2 linked regions of the Homo sapiens genome follow. The protein of the gene in region 1 purifies or fractionates together with the protein of each later gene. This does not show direct contact. Each region holds a gene or a part of one and is shown on either strand. Other genes may lie near its edges.

Region 1 (7,265 bases):
TCCTTCACCACCACCTTTCCCTAATATATTCTGTATGACACAGGTTCTGGTCAGATAAGTGCTGTACTTTATTTGCAAAACAAAACGTTCCCAGCTCCAAAGCTTGGCTGTTCCACCCAAAGAGTGTCAAATAACTAACCGCACTATATGATCAGATTTTGGGGTTAACAGCAAGACTCCTCTGGCACAACCCAATCTCTCCCATTCTGAAGAACCTCTACCTTCTGTCCATCCCTTCAATGCCCAATGTCCTCTTCTCTTCTCTCTCAAGGCAGTCTTCCCTGGGATTCCTGACTTAATCTTCTTAGTTATCATTTATATGCTGATGTTTCTTAAACCAACAGCTCCAGGCCTAACTACCTGCATGCACTGATTGGGGAAATAAAGAATGAATGAAGCACTGAACCTGTCCTCAAAGTTTATTTGAGAAATGCAGAAATAACTGTTATTCATAAAAAGCCTACCACTGTAAATAACACGTACTATAAATAACATGCTTTACACACCATAACTCTAACCTTCACAACAACTTTGAATGTTAAGTGATATGACTACCTTCGTATGTGAGGAAACTAAAGTACTAAAAAGCAAAAAAGGTAAGATTTAAACACAGGTCTGATTTCAAAACTGTTATTTCCACTGTCCCATGCACATTCACAGTCTAGTTGAAGAGACCACGTATTCAACAAATGTAAAACCATATGGGCTTGTGCAATGGGAGAGTCCCCAGAGCTTTCCCATTTAAAACTAGACCCTAGTTCCAATCCTATATGTGACCTTAGACAAGTCCCATAGATACTTTAGGTCTTGAGTTTTCTCATCAGTAAAATGAGGAGGTCAGAGTAGAAGATCCTGAGTGTTCCCTACTAGTATAATAGAAAATTTCCCTTATTAGACTGATGACTGTGGCCAAGTTTCCTCACATCTTTAAGATGGGAATATCCTGAAGACTAAATGATGTAGAGCATGGTGTAATACCACTGTGTGTCTGGTATATGGCAGCATCAACAAATGTTAGTGGAATCCAAAGTGATTATCCTGCAATAAATAGGACAATAAAGCACATGAAAAGTTTAGGCACTGAAGATATGACTGAAAAATGGACATACCATAACAGAGAAAGAACTTGAGCTAGACCCGGAAAGATACTGGAACTGAAGTATAAAGAGAAAGGAGTAGGGAGGAGCGGACCTCTTTCAAAGGCCAAAGCCACCAAAAAGTATGGACATAAACAAACTTTATGATCCGTGAGAGACAAACTTGTGACTGAGTCTCCTACTTGAAAAGCAAGTTAAGTCCAAAACTTTTTCCTTTAGAAATGTTGAAGATGCTCACGCCTGTAATCCCAGCACTTTGGGAGGCAGAGGCGGGTAGATCATGAGGTCAGGAGATCAAGACCATCCTGGCTAACACGGTGAAACCCTGTCTCTACTAAAAAATACAAAAAATTAGCCGGGCGTGGTGGTGGGTGCCTGTAGTCCCAGCTACTCAGGAGGCTGAGGCAGGAGAATGGCATGAATCCAGGAGGCGGAGCTTGCAGTGAGCCGAGATTGCGACACTGCACTCCAGCCTGGGCAACGGAGCAAGACTCTATCTCAAAAAAAAAAAAAAAAAAAAAATTTTTTTTTGTTTTTTGAAGATGCCAGGATGTCATAAAAGCATTGTGATCTGGGAAACTTAATCTGGCACTGGCAGATGGATGAGTGGAGAAAGGAGAGACGTCAAACAATGAAGCAAGGGAAACCTACAACGAAACCACTCCTTGGCAGGAAACCATAAAAGCCTGAATGAGAGAATGGCAACAGGGACAAAGAGGAGTTACTCTATCATGTTCTATGATATTTTACACTTTATCAACTATTTAGAATAGTGCCTTTCTTTGTTCCATTATTATATTCCATTAACAGAGATGAGACTATACCAGTCCGGATGATGGTAAAAGAATCCTTAAAAAGGAAAATATAATTAATTTCGGTTATCGATTCTGGTATGAAATTGGCACCCAGAAAAGAAAGCCCAAAGTAAATTTAAATGTCTAATTCCCGGATTGATAGCACAGAATTTAAAATATATACATAGGCTCGGTGGGGCAGCTCACGCCTGTAATCCCAGCACTTTGGGAGGCCGAGATGTGATCACCTGAGGTCAGGAGTTCGAGACTAGCCTGGCCAACATGCTAAAACCCAGTCTCTACTAAAAATACAAAAATTAGCCAGGTTTGGTGGCAGGCACCTGTTAACAGTGAGCCAAGATCATGCCACTCACTCCAGCCTGGGTGAAAGAGCAAAATAAAAAGATATATATACACACACACACACACACACACACATATATATGCATGTTTCTTATCAAAATAATACATTTTTTAATCAAAAGAGCACCATTAAAACACAGTCATGCACTGCATAATGACATTTTGATCAGTGACCAACCGCTCATACCATGGTGGTCTCATAACAGTATAATGGAGAATATACAGAAACCTGATATATGGCACTGGATACCGGCAATGCAGATCAAGTAGATGAAATGACTGATATTCAGTAATGGTGCTGGGACATTTGGTTTTCCATATGAAAAAAATATATAAACAAATATACACATACCATCTAGGTTTGTGTAAGTACACTCTATAATATTCGCACAAGGACTAAGTCATCTGACAAAACATATCCCAGAACATATTCCCGACGCTGACTGTATATACTTCTTGTAAAGCAGCAAGTGCTTATATTCATTATTTACCTGCTTCTGTTTATGGCAATCTCTTTACTCGACCTTTTCTCAATTTGACATAGAACATTATAAAAGATACACAGAAGAAGAGCCAGTATTTTGGTGTGATCTCAGAACTAATTTACAAATTCAATTAATATTTGTATCGAATGCAGATTTTTAAGGCATTTGGGAAGTTCAAACTCAATATGGTAAATTTTTAAACTGGACAAAAACCATACAACAGAAAAGTCCCATTAAGTAAAGCCTATTCATGCCTTTTCATCTCTGTAGGAGAGAAAGCCTGGTGTATTGGGAAATGATTGAGATTTTCCTTACCCTGATTTCTACATTCCTTGATTTCAAGTTAAAGCGTATCTGAAGTCCCAAATGTTCCACAATAGGAGTAAATATCTTCATCCAGTTTTCTTTCAATGGTGTGTATCTGTTAGCTGGGACTGGAATTTTCCTTGTTTCTTCTTTCCCACTCTGTAAATAAAAGAACACACAACTCAGAAGGCTATGGAGGGACGGTGATGGAGTTTAAAATGACATCTGATCCACAAAGGGCCTCCTTTAACTGAACTAGTTACACTTCAAAGAATCACTTCTCTCTGAGCATCACGGCAGAACAGCCCCACCGCAGCTTCAACATTCTCCAGAGGCCATCGGCTTGATCCGCGTCTGGCCCTTGCCTCGTTGCTGTCCTAGGGTCCCAGCCACATACCAGGAGCCCGTCCCCACAGAGGGGTGGGAAGACGGGCCTCTTCGCCGGCCTGGCCTCCTCTGTGTCCATGCGGCCCGCATCCCCGCCCTCTCCTGCTGCGGACAGCTGTTCAGCCTGTCGTTTCTTCGCCCGTCGGCCACCCTTGCGGGTGACCTGGGTAAAGCCCTCCTCTGCCCTGGCGCTCTGCGTTTCCATTTCGGATTCCATCCCCGGAAATCTTAAAGCGCTGCCGGCTGAAACACGTGCGCAGCTGCACCACGCAGAAGCCAGCCTCAGCCAACCACCCCTGCAGCTCCGCCCCTTTCCTAAAACGTCACAGGCCGGGGACCTGCAGGATTTGGGGCCGGTGGGGGGGAAAACGGGGTTAGGCTGTCCTAAGATATGCCTGATGGTCTTGGGCTCACTCCAGCCGCGCAACTCCCAGCCCAAGTATTTTGTAATCTCTAGTATGTATGTGTGCGAAAGGCAGTGGGTAAAGGCGATAAACAAATTCGTGCTGTTGTGAAGGAACATTCTGTGCGATCGCAGGAGCGCATCTGGCATTATCCGGGGATAACTACAGCCAACATGCCAGGGCATCTGGGGCAGAATACGGAAAGCGGGAGGGACAAATTGCCAATGTTTGGAGTCTGGTTTCCAGGTTGCCGTTTTTGGGGGCTCTGGGTGTGGCGGTTGCCGTAGCTGAAATTGGCTGCACCATGTCGGCCTTCGAGAAGCCTCAGATCATCGCCCATATCCAGAAGGGCTTCAACTACACGGTGTTTGACTGTAAGTGGGTGCCCTGCAGCGCCAAATTTGTGACCATGGGCAACTTCGCACGGGGCACCGGCGTCATTCAGCTGTACGAGATCCAGCACGGGGACCTGAAGCTGCTTCGGGAGGTGGGTGCCGGGTCGAGGATCCGGACTGCCGTTGGGGGCGAGTGCGGATCCTGGGGTCTGCATTCCTCTTTGCCAGAGCCTTCGCCCAGCGTCCCCCAAAGCATGGCTTGAGCCGCGCGAGACCAGAGAAGCTGACCGCCGACTGAGGAATGTTTCCTATTTAAAACCTTTCTTCTCATCCGCGGGGTAGTTCCTCCGCGCCCAACCGTCCTGCCACCCCCAGTGCAGTCCAGCCAAAGCGGGCACCAGGATGCCTGCAGTGTGGTTGGAAGAGGCAACCTAACACATTCGACAGGCATCAGCTGAGTGCCTGGTATTCCCAGGGATGTGAATGGTAATGTCCCCCATCTCATGGAGTTTATTTTCTAGTGGGAGAGATACTCAGTTCAATAATCAAAGCAACGATACATAAATACAAACCGAGATGAGTTGTCTCACACAAAGGAACACGGTTACGGTTCAATGAGAGTGAAAACAGATTTGGGATGAATGAAAACAGATTTTGGTATGTGCAGAAGCTAACTAGGTCAAACTAGGAGTAAAGGACAAGGTTTCCAGGGCTTCTGCACATGCAGAAGCTCAGTGATGGGAAGAAGTTTATCTCCTTAAGAAACTAGAGGGATAAGCAGGAACCAGACATTGCAAGATCTGTAGGACATTCAAAGGATTTATGCCTTTTTTCTAAGAAAAAACGGACACAACTGAAAGGATTTAAGCAGGGTGTGGAAAGATTAGGTTTGCAAGGTTTTTTTGAAGATTACTAGTGAAAGAATTAGAGAATAATGATAGTAACTAGCATTTTATAGCTGTTTATAGTTTTTAAAAAGTGTTGATTTTGTTACCTGAAAAAATGATCAGTCATTATCAGATCAGGGTTGTAATAGACTACAAGTGCAGGGTAGGTTAACTCTGGGGATCAAAACCTATGGAGAGAATCTGCTTGGAGGAGGTAGGGATTAAACTGGTAGATAAAGGATGAATACAATTTGGACTGTTAAGCCTAGAATAGAAAGTATGTAAGACCCCATCCCGCTTTAAGTTTCCCTGAATGACAAACATGAAACATGGCTTATTTTTTTCTACCTTTCCTTCGTTCCTTGTATTGTTCATCACTTAGCTTCTGGTAACCAGTGGCTTTTTTTTTTTTTTTTTTTTTTTTGAGACAGGGTCTCAATCTGTCACCCAGCCCGGAGTGCTGTGGTGCAAACACAGCTCACTGCAACCTCCGCCTCCCCACCTCAGCCTCCCAAGTAGCTGGGACTACAGGTGTGTGCCACCACACCTAACTAATTTTTTTGTACTTTTTATTTTTTTATTTTTTATTTTGGTAGAGATGGGGTTTCACCGTGTTGCCTAGGCTGGTCTCCAACTCCTGGGCTCAAGCAGTCTGCCTACATCGGCCTCCCGTAATACTGGGATTACAGGCGTGAGCCACCAAGCCTGGCTACCTGTTGCTATTCCAATGTTCAGTTCAGATTATCTAATGTATGATGCCCTTCCTGATTTCTACACAAAGTAAAATTTCTTTACATTGCATTTTGGGTTGTTTTTGTTTTTTGTTGTTGTTGTTTAGGGATGGCGTAGCTCTGTCCCAGTCCGGAGTGCAGTGCTACTGTCATAGCTCATCGCAGCCTGGAACTCCTGGGCTCAAACCATCCTCCCGCCTCTCCCTCCCAAAGTGCTGGATCAGGTGTGAGCCACCATTAAAAAGAAAAGGTATTTAAAGGATTTATTCCTTTTTCTTTTCTTTCTTTCTTTTTTTTTTTTGAGACGGAGTCTGGCTCTGTCACCCAAGCTTGAGTGCAGTGGCGTGATCTTGGCTAACTGCAACCTCTGCCTCCCAGGTTCAAGCGATTCTCCTGCCTCAGCCTCCCTAGTAGCTGGAATTACAGGCACATGCTACCACGCCCAACTAATTTTTTTGTATTTTTAGTAGAGATGGGGTTTCACCATGTTGGTCAGGCAGGTCTCAAACTCCTGACCTTAGGTGATCCACCCGCCTTGGGCTCCCAAAGTGCTGGGATTACAGACATGAGCCATTGCACCTGGCCATTTATTCCTTTTTCGAAGAAAAATGGGACATGATTGAAATTTTTTTTTTTTTTTTGAAACAGGGTCTCACTCTTGCCTACGATGGAGTGCAGTGGCAGGATCAGGGCTTAGACCTGTGACTTTTTAAAATAAGAACAGGCCTGGTGCAGTGGCTAACGCCTGCAATTCCAACACTTTGGGAGGCAGTGGGGTGGATTGCTTGAGCCCAGGAGTTCAAGACCAGCCTAGGCAACATGGGGAAACCCCGTCTCTACTTTTTGTATAAAAAAAATACAAAAATTAGCTGGGCATAGTGATGCGAGCCTGTAGTCCCAGCTACTTGGGAGGCTGTGGTGGGAGGATCTCTTGAGCCCAGGAGGTCAAGGATGCTGTGTTCGCACCACTGCACTCCATCCTGGGTGACAGAGAGACCCTGTCTCAAAAAATAATAAAATGAAAATATATGATTTGTATGTATTTCAAAAGTACACTTACTCCATCAAGTGGAATAGAGTAGTTTGTCTTTTGTAGCGACTCTGGGGAATTTCAGCAAATTTTAAAAAGATAATTTTCTTTTGTAGCAAAAATAATATGTGTCCACGATAGAACATTTAGAAAATAGGAAAACGAAGAAAATATCACCCATAATCTCAATGCCAGGAATAACCACTAAGTGTATTTTCACGCCGGGTGTGGTGGCTCACGCCTGTAATCCCAGCACTTTGGGAGGCCGAGGCGGGTGGATCATGAGGTCAGGAGATCGAGATCATCCTGGCTAACACGGTGAAACCCCGTCTCTACTAAAAATACAAAAAATCAGCCGGGCGTGGTGGCGGGCGCCTGTAGTCCCAGCTACTCAGGAGGCTGAGGCAGGAGAATGGCTTCAACCTGGGAGGCAGAGCTTGCAGTGA
Region 2 (7,000 bases), on another chromosome or scaffold:
CAATCAAGGAAATCATGAAAGAGACTGTGGATGTGGCTAAAAAAACTGGCATAGCGGTGGTGAAGGGTTTCAAGATATGAATCTTGGAGAAACTCAAGAGCTAACAGACATTACATCAGAGGAATTAACACAAGATGACAGGCCAGGTGCAGTGGCTCACGCCTGTAATCCCAGCACTTTGGGAGGCTGAGGTGGGTGGATCACCTGAGGTCGGGAGTTCAAGACCAGCCTGACCAACATGGAGAAACCCCGTCTCTACTAAAAATACAAAATTAGCTGGGCTTGGTGGCTCACGCCTGTAATCCCAGCTACTCGGGAGGCTGAGACAGGAGAATCGTTTGAACCCAGGAGGCGGAGGTTGTGGTGAGCCAAGATTGTGCCACTGCACTCCAGCGTGGGCGACAAGAGCGAAACTCCATCTCAAAAAAATAAAAAATAAAAACAAAAAAAACCAAACAGAAGATGACTTGATGGAGACGACTGCTTCCAAAGCAGTGCCAGACGATGAGGAAGATGATGTAGAAGCAGCAGTGCCAGAAAACAAACTGACATTAGACAATCTGGCAGAAGGCTTCTGATTATTCAAGACTGCTTTTGACTTCTTTTATGATATGGACCCTTCTATGATAGAGGCACTGAAACTGAAGCAGTGGAAGAGGGACTGGTACTATACAGAAATATTTTTAGAGAAACAAAAAAGCAGAAGTCAGACAAATCACGATGTATTTCCATTGAGTTACACTGAGTGTGCCTCCTGCCCATCCTGCCTCCCCTTCTACCACTCTTCTGCCTCTGACACCCAAGACAGAAAGACCAGCCCGTTCTTCCTCCACAGCCTATTCAACATGAAGATGATGATGACCTTTTTGATGATCTACTTCCACTTAAGGCATAGTAAATGTGTTATCTCTTCCTTATGATTTTCTTTTTTTGGAGACGGACTTTCACTCTTGTCGCCCAGGTTGGAGTGCAATGGCACCATCTCAGCTTACTGCAACCTCCGCCTCCTTGGTTCAAGCAATTCTCCTGCCTCAGCCTCCCGAGTAGCTGGGATTACAGGCATGCACCACCACACCTAGCTAATTTTTGTATTATTATTAGAGATGGGGTTTCACCATGTTGGCCAGGCTGGTCTTGAACTCCTCACCTCAGGTGATCCACCTGCCTTGGCCTCCCAAAGTGCTGGGATTACAGGCATGAGCCACCGTGCCCTGCCCTTATGATTTTCTTAATAACATTTTCTCTAGCTTACTTTATTTAAGGGAATACAGTATATAACACATATGATATACAAAATATGTGATAGTTAATTGTGTTATTGGTAAGGGTTCGGGTCAACGGTCAGCTATTAGGAGTGGGGGAGTCAAAAAATTATACATGGATTTTCAACTCCTTGGGGACTGATTCCCCTAACCCCCAAGTTGTTCAAGGGTCAACTGTACACTTAAGGCAACTAGTCATCACTACTATAACCAGATATAGTTGAATTCAAAATATACTTTGTGGTTACTAAAATCTGGACAAATTAGTTCTCATGCATATCTAACATGTACATATTTCAACTAGAGAATTAGAACCTGCAAAAAAGAAAGATAAAAGAAAAAAATTAACATGTCTATACTATATAATGGTAACTTCTAGATATAACCCATCCTGTACTGCCCAGTTGAGTCTCCAGGCGAATAATAAAGACTGTACCAAAGATGCAAAGGTCAAGCAAGGAGGAAGGCGAATAAACATGTAAGTAGAGTTGGCCCTCTATATCCGCAGGTCCCGCATCCAGATTCCACCAACCATGCACTGATAACATGGCAGGGGGGGTGGGGTGGGGGGATGGACAATAATACAACGGCAAAAAATAATATAAATTTTAAAGACAATATAGTATAGCAACTATTTATATAGCATTTATGCTATATTAGGCATTATAAGCAATCTAAAGGTGATTTAAAGTGTATAGAAGGATGTGTATAGGTTATACACAAATACCATACCATTTTATATAAGGGTTAAGCATCCACAAACTTTAGTATTCAAGGGGGCGGGGATCCTAGAACCAATGCCCTGTGGATATCAAGGGATGACTGCATACGTCTGACCGAAGTTTAATGAATGTAGGACTAATTGCTTGTCACTCCCTCCAACTCATGGCCATGTGAAGTCAACTATGTGTATGCATGTTAATACCCTTTGGGGTATAAAAGTATAAAATATGATTTGGATCTGTGATATATTATGTTGGGGTAGATTTGTCAGCTTTTTGATAAATTAAAAATGAATGAACTTTGCTGGGCATGGTGGCGCATGCCAATAGTTTCAGGTACTGGAAAGGCTGACAACAGGATGACTGCTTGAGCCCAGGAGTTTGAGACAGGCCTAGGTAACACAGCAAGACCTTGTCTATTAAAAAGAATGGTCTATGAGCACAGACATCAGTGCAGAAGTAGTGAATGCAATCTAGAATCGCATAAATCGCAGCTAAGGATGTAGCTGAGGAAACTGATGGTTCTGCTATAATCCAGGCCACTTAGGATACTCTGGAAATGTTCATTCAAAAATCATCATAATGACATTAAAGAAAACCTCTTAGATAGGCAGTTATTTAGAAATGTAACGGACACCCACCAAGGTAGCAATTACAAATGTCTAAGCACAAGCTGCTCACTAATGGTTAGGGGCAGTACAGATGAGACTCACGCAGTAAATAACTGTTGGACTAGAGGACTTCTGAAGAGGGCAGGCAGCTAAGCCAAGGTTATTTCTACCTGTTACTATATCCTTTATTAAACCTTTTCAGGTAATGATGACTGTTACGCAACTACAAAAAGGAAACACACGGGAAGAAAAGTCTTGTTTTTACCTGGCCTACTCACCTAGCAATGCGATTATTGTCTGTCTTCCGGACTCTGCGGATGGCTGTGATATTGGCCCGCATAAGGTAGTGCTGAGCTAAATCTACAAATCCAAGAGTAGAGATGTCAAGCTGGGTTCTGAACTGGTTTTATAATCAAAGTACTCTTAACCATGACACTATTACGCCCCTGCCAAACATGAGGGGAGAAAACAAATCACCCACCCTCGTCTACCTCAAAGGTAGGCTGGAAAAAGTAACAAAGTCCCACCTGAGATGCCCTTTTCAGTGATGACCACATCGGGCTTCAGTTGGATAATGTCCTCACAGAGCTGCTGGATGTACTCTTCCTCCATCTGGAGAATTCGGGTGAAGTCCTCCTCTCGTGTAATCTCAATGTCAGTCTGTGTGGTAAAGAAAAGACACTGATTTTAAAATCCCTGGACTGGTGAAGCTCTAAGGGTCATATTATACTCCTTCCACCCACCTCTCCCACGTATCTCAGAGTCAGAATTATGTTAAAGCCATGACCTCAACACCTCTGTAAGCCAATTTAGCTTTAGTTTTGCTTTTTTTTTTTTTTGAGACGGAATCTTGCTCTGTCACCCAGGCTGGAGTGTAATGGCGCGATCTTGGCTCACTGCAAGCTCTGCCTCCTGGGTTCAAGCGATTCTCCTGCCTCAGCCTCCCGAGTAGCTGGGACTACAGGTGCCTGCCACCACCCCCAGCTAACTTTTTTTTTGTATTTTTAGTAGAGACGGGGTTTCACCACGTTAGCCAGGATGGTCTCGATCTTCTGACTTCGTGATCCGCCCGCCTCTGCCTCCCAAAGTGCTGGGATTACAGGCGTGAGCCACCACGCCCGGCCAGCTCCAGTTATATCATTATAAAACAACCAGAACTGAAAGTCACACAGTAATTAGTGTTGAGTTTGGCCTTTCTAAGGTCTCTGACCACCCAGTCCAATCCTACATCTGTCCTGGCAGTGTGCAGGAAAATCCTGGGTCTTAATTCTTCCCACTAATTGATTCTTATTCTTTCCAAATGTGATGGAGCCTTGTGAGCCTCCTGCCCTCTAGAATTTTTTTTTTTTTTTTTTTGAGACAGGGTCTCACTGTTGCTCAGGCTGGAGTTCAGTGGCGTGATCACAGCTCCTTGCACCCTTGACCTTCTGGGTTCAAGCAATCCTCTCACCTCAGCCTCCCAAGTAGTGGGGACTACAGGCACATGCCACCACGCCCAATTAATTTTTTTTAAATAAAGACAGTATTCGACATGTTGCCTAGGCTGGTCTTGAACTCCTGGGCTCGAGCCATCCACCTGCCTTAGCCTCCCAAAGTGCTAGAATTATAGGTGTGAGCCACTGCATTAAGCTGAAATTCTCCTTTAGTACTTCAAAGCTGAATTAACTCCTACCTTATGTTCCCCTGGTGCATTAGGAAAGGCAGCATGATCGTATAAAACAAGCCAAACACAACCAGGTTCAAATCTTGATTTTGGCCAATACTAGCTGTATTCCTCAAGCAATTAACCTAACTTGTTTGAGCTTCAGATCCCTCATCTGTAAAATGAAATCAATACCAACTATTCTAAAGGATTGTTCTAAGAGTCAGTGTACACTATGCACCCAGAAGGCATGCAATAAACATACGTTTTATTTCTGTTGTTCATATTTGCAGTCAGATTCTTGCATCTACTTTAAGGAACAAGGCCAAGAACCTTACCTGGCTTTCTCCTTTCTTGTATTCCAGAGAAGAATCCAGCAGCACAATGCGAGGGTTCTTGATATAGCGCCGCATACGTGGATGGGTCACATCCTTGTTAATCATGACTCCACGCAAGACACAGGAGTCTTCAATGATGCCTCCAGGTATCTGAACAAAAGACAACTGCACTTTAATCCACAATCAAGAGACAATTTCTTAATTTCCTTCCCAGATGTTCATCTTTCCCAAACAGCTAGTGTTTCAGGTTTTTTTTTTTTTTTGAGATGGAGTCTCGCTCTGTCGCTCAGGCTGGAGTGCAGTGGTGCAATCTCGGCTCACTGCAAGCTCCGCCTCCCGGGTTCACGCCATTCTCCTGCCTCAGACTCCCAAGTAGCTGGGACTACAGGCGCCCGCCACCACACCCGGCTAATTTTTTTTTTTGTATTTTACTAGAGATGGGGTTTCACCATGTTAGCCAGGATGGTCTCGATCTCCTGACCTCGTGATCCGCCCGCCTCGGCCTCCCAAAGTGCTGGGATTACAGGCATGAGCCACCACGCCCGGCCCAGTGTTTCAGGTTTCTAAAGTACCTTTCTTTGATGAAGCTCAAAAATATTATTGGAATCACATTTTTTTCCCATTAGGAAATACACCAATTTTAGACCATGACACTCAACTTGAAGGTCTGCTGAGACTCACTGAAATTCAATGACTTGACAAAAGACTTAGAGGGGCTTATGAGCCAGGCACAGTGGTTCACACCTAAAATCCCAGCTACTCAAGAGGCTCAGGCAGGAGGATCCCTTGAGGCCGGGAGTTCGAGACCAGCCTGGGCAACACATTGAGACCCAATTGCTATTTAAATAAATAAATAAGGGCTTAGGTCTCTCCAATTAAAAAAATAAATATATTGCCAGAGAATTTTAGGCTTGGGGCTCCATCTACTGGCCACAAGCTATACTACTAAACTTTTGGATCTTAATGAAATTTAGTGGACAGGAGAGAAAGCTTTCTGGGGCTTACTATTTTAATAGCACTACATAATAGAGCCCTTGTTAAGCTTATATCCTGACCAAATGACTGATGTATGCAAATACACAAACATGGAGACACCAATAAGCCTGTCCCTTGTCCTCATAAACCTTGTGTAGGGATAGCAGTGAAGGTAACAACAAAACTATTTGAAGAAATTCCTACTTGGTAGCCTCTTATAGGTTTTTGTTTCCAGGCAGCAAGTATAGTTCTTCCTAGTTCTAACTAAAGATACCTTGCTTTGGTCAGGCGCAGTGGCTCACCCTATAATCCCAGCACTTTGTGAGGCAAAGGTGGGCAGATCACTGAGGTCAGGAGTTCGAGACCATCCTGGCTAACATGGTGAAACCCCGTCTCTACTTAAAATACAAAAAGAAATTAGCTGGGCGTGGTGGCAGGCATCTGTAATCCCAACTATTTTAAAGGCTGAGGCAGGAGATCACTCGAACCCGGGAGGTGGAGGCTACAGTGAGCCGAGATCGCACCACTGCACTCTAGCCTCTGCGCGACAGAGCAAGACTCCATCTCAAAAAAACAAACAAACAAAAAACATACCTTGCTCTGATTTAAAACTATTTCATTCAAGTAGGGTATGATGGCTTATGCCTATAATCCCAGCACTTTGAGAGCCTGAGGTGGGAAGATCACTTGAGGCCAGGAGTTCAAGACCAGCCTGGGCAACATGAGACCCTCATCTCTACAAAAAGAAAAAAAATTTGCTGGGCACAGTGGCATGTGCCTGTAGTCCTAGCAAATCAGAGGATTTGCTTGAGGCCAGGAGTTTGAGGCTGCAGTGGGCTGTGACTGTGCCACTATACTCCAGCCTAGGCAACAAGGTGAGACTCTGTCTCAAAAACAAAACAAAACAACGGCATGAAAAACAGACTATTTCCTCACAAGTGAGATGACTCATGCTAACATATAATTTGACCCAATGTATACACTTTGAAAGTTTACCTTTTCCACTCTTGCATATTTTTTTATGTCAATCTCTTTCCGACCATTCTCCTCAAACTGTACCATCTTGACAGCATCCAGGGCAATGTTGCAAGCCAAAGATGACCACCGACTGATGGCTTTGGTAGTAATAGAGCTGTTGATGATGTTCAGCATCATATCACTGTCACTGATGTCGACTGGGATACTAGAGAAAAGAAAACCAGACGATATGTGAAGAAGGCATGTTAGATATGTAGAGATGTGCCTTATCTATACCTCAGTGACTATAATAATGGACCAAGAGGCAGAACAAGGGGATTTGTTCCTTTGGAGGAAACTAAAAGGACATTAGGAGGTAACCTTTGTCCATTCCTCTGCCTTTCAGCAAGATTACAACTCATCTGTAGACGGTGCCTTAATTCCCTGAGCAACCCTTTACACTTACATACAAAGATTATAGTAAAATAATTTG

The links. The genes of interacting proteins can lie anywhere in the genome.
Region 2: the proteins of DNAAF10 (region 1) and CCT3 purify together in Homo sapiens (affinity purification with mass spectrometry; 4 studies listed by BioGRID and IntAct, with this or other methods). This does not show direct contact.

The regions. Positions count from the first base shown.
Region 1 is NC_000002.12:68,154,319-68,161,583, reverse strand, and holds the start of DNAAF10 (dynein axonemal assembly factor 10), read left to right. Parts: upstream 1-4,056; 5' UTR 4,057-4,140; coding exon 4,141-4,323; intron 4,324-7,265. Other genes in the region: RNA-binding protein PNO1, read right to left, coding at 3,055-3,204, 3,443-3,649. UniProt on the Homo sapiens protein: Key assembly factor specifically required for the stability of axonemal dynein heavy chains in cytoplasm.
Region 2 is NC_000001.11:156,314,293-156,321,292, forward strand, and holds part of CCT3 (T-complex protein 1 subunit gamma), read right to left. Parts: intron 6,734-7,000; coding exon 6,547-6,733; intron 4,726-6,546; coding exon 4,576-4,725; intron 3,256-4,575; coding exon 3,123-3,255; intron 2,956-3,122; coding exon 2,874-2,955; intron 1-2,873. UniProt on the Homo sapiens protein: Component of the chaperonin-containing T-complex (TRiC), a molecular chaperone complex that assists the folding of actin, tubulin and other proteins upon ATP hydrolysis.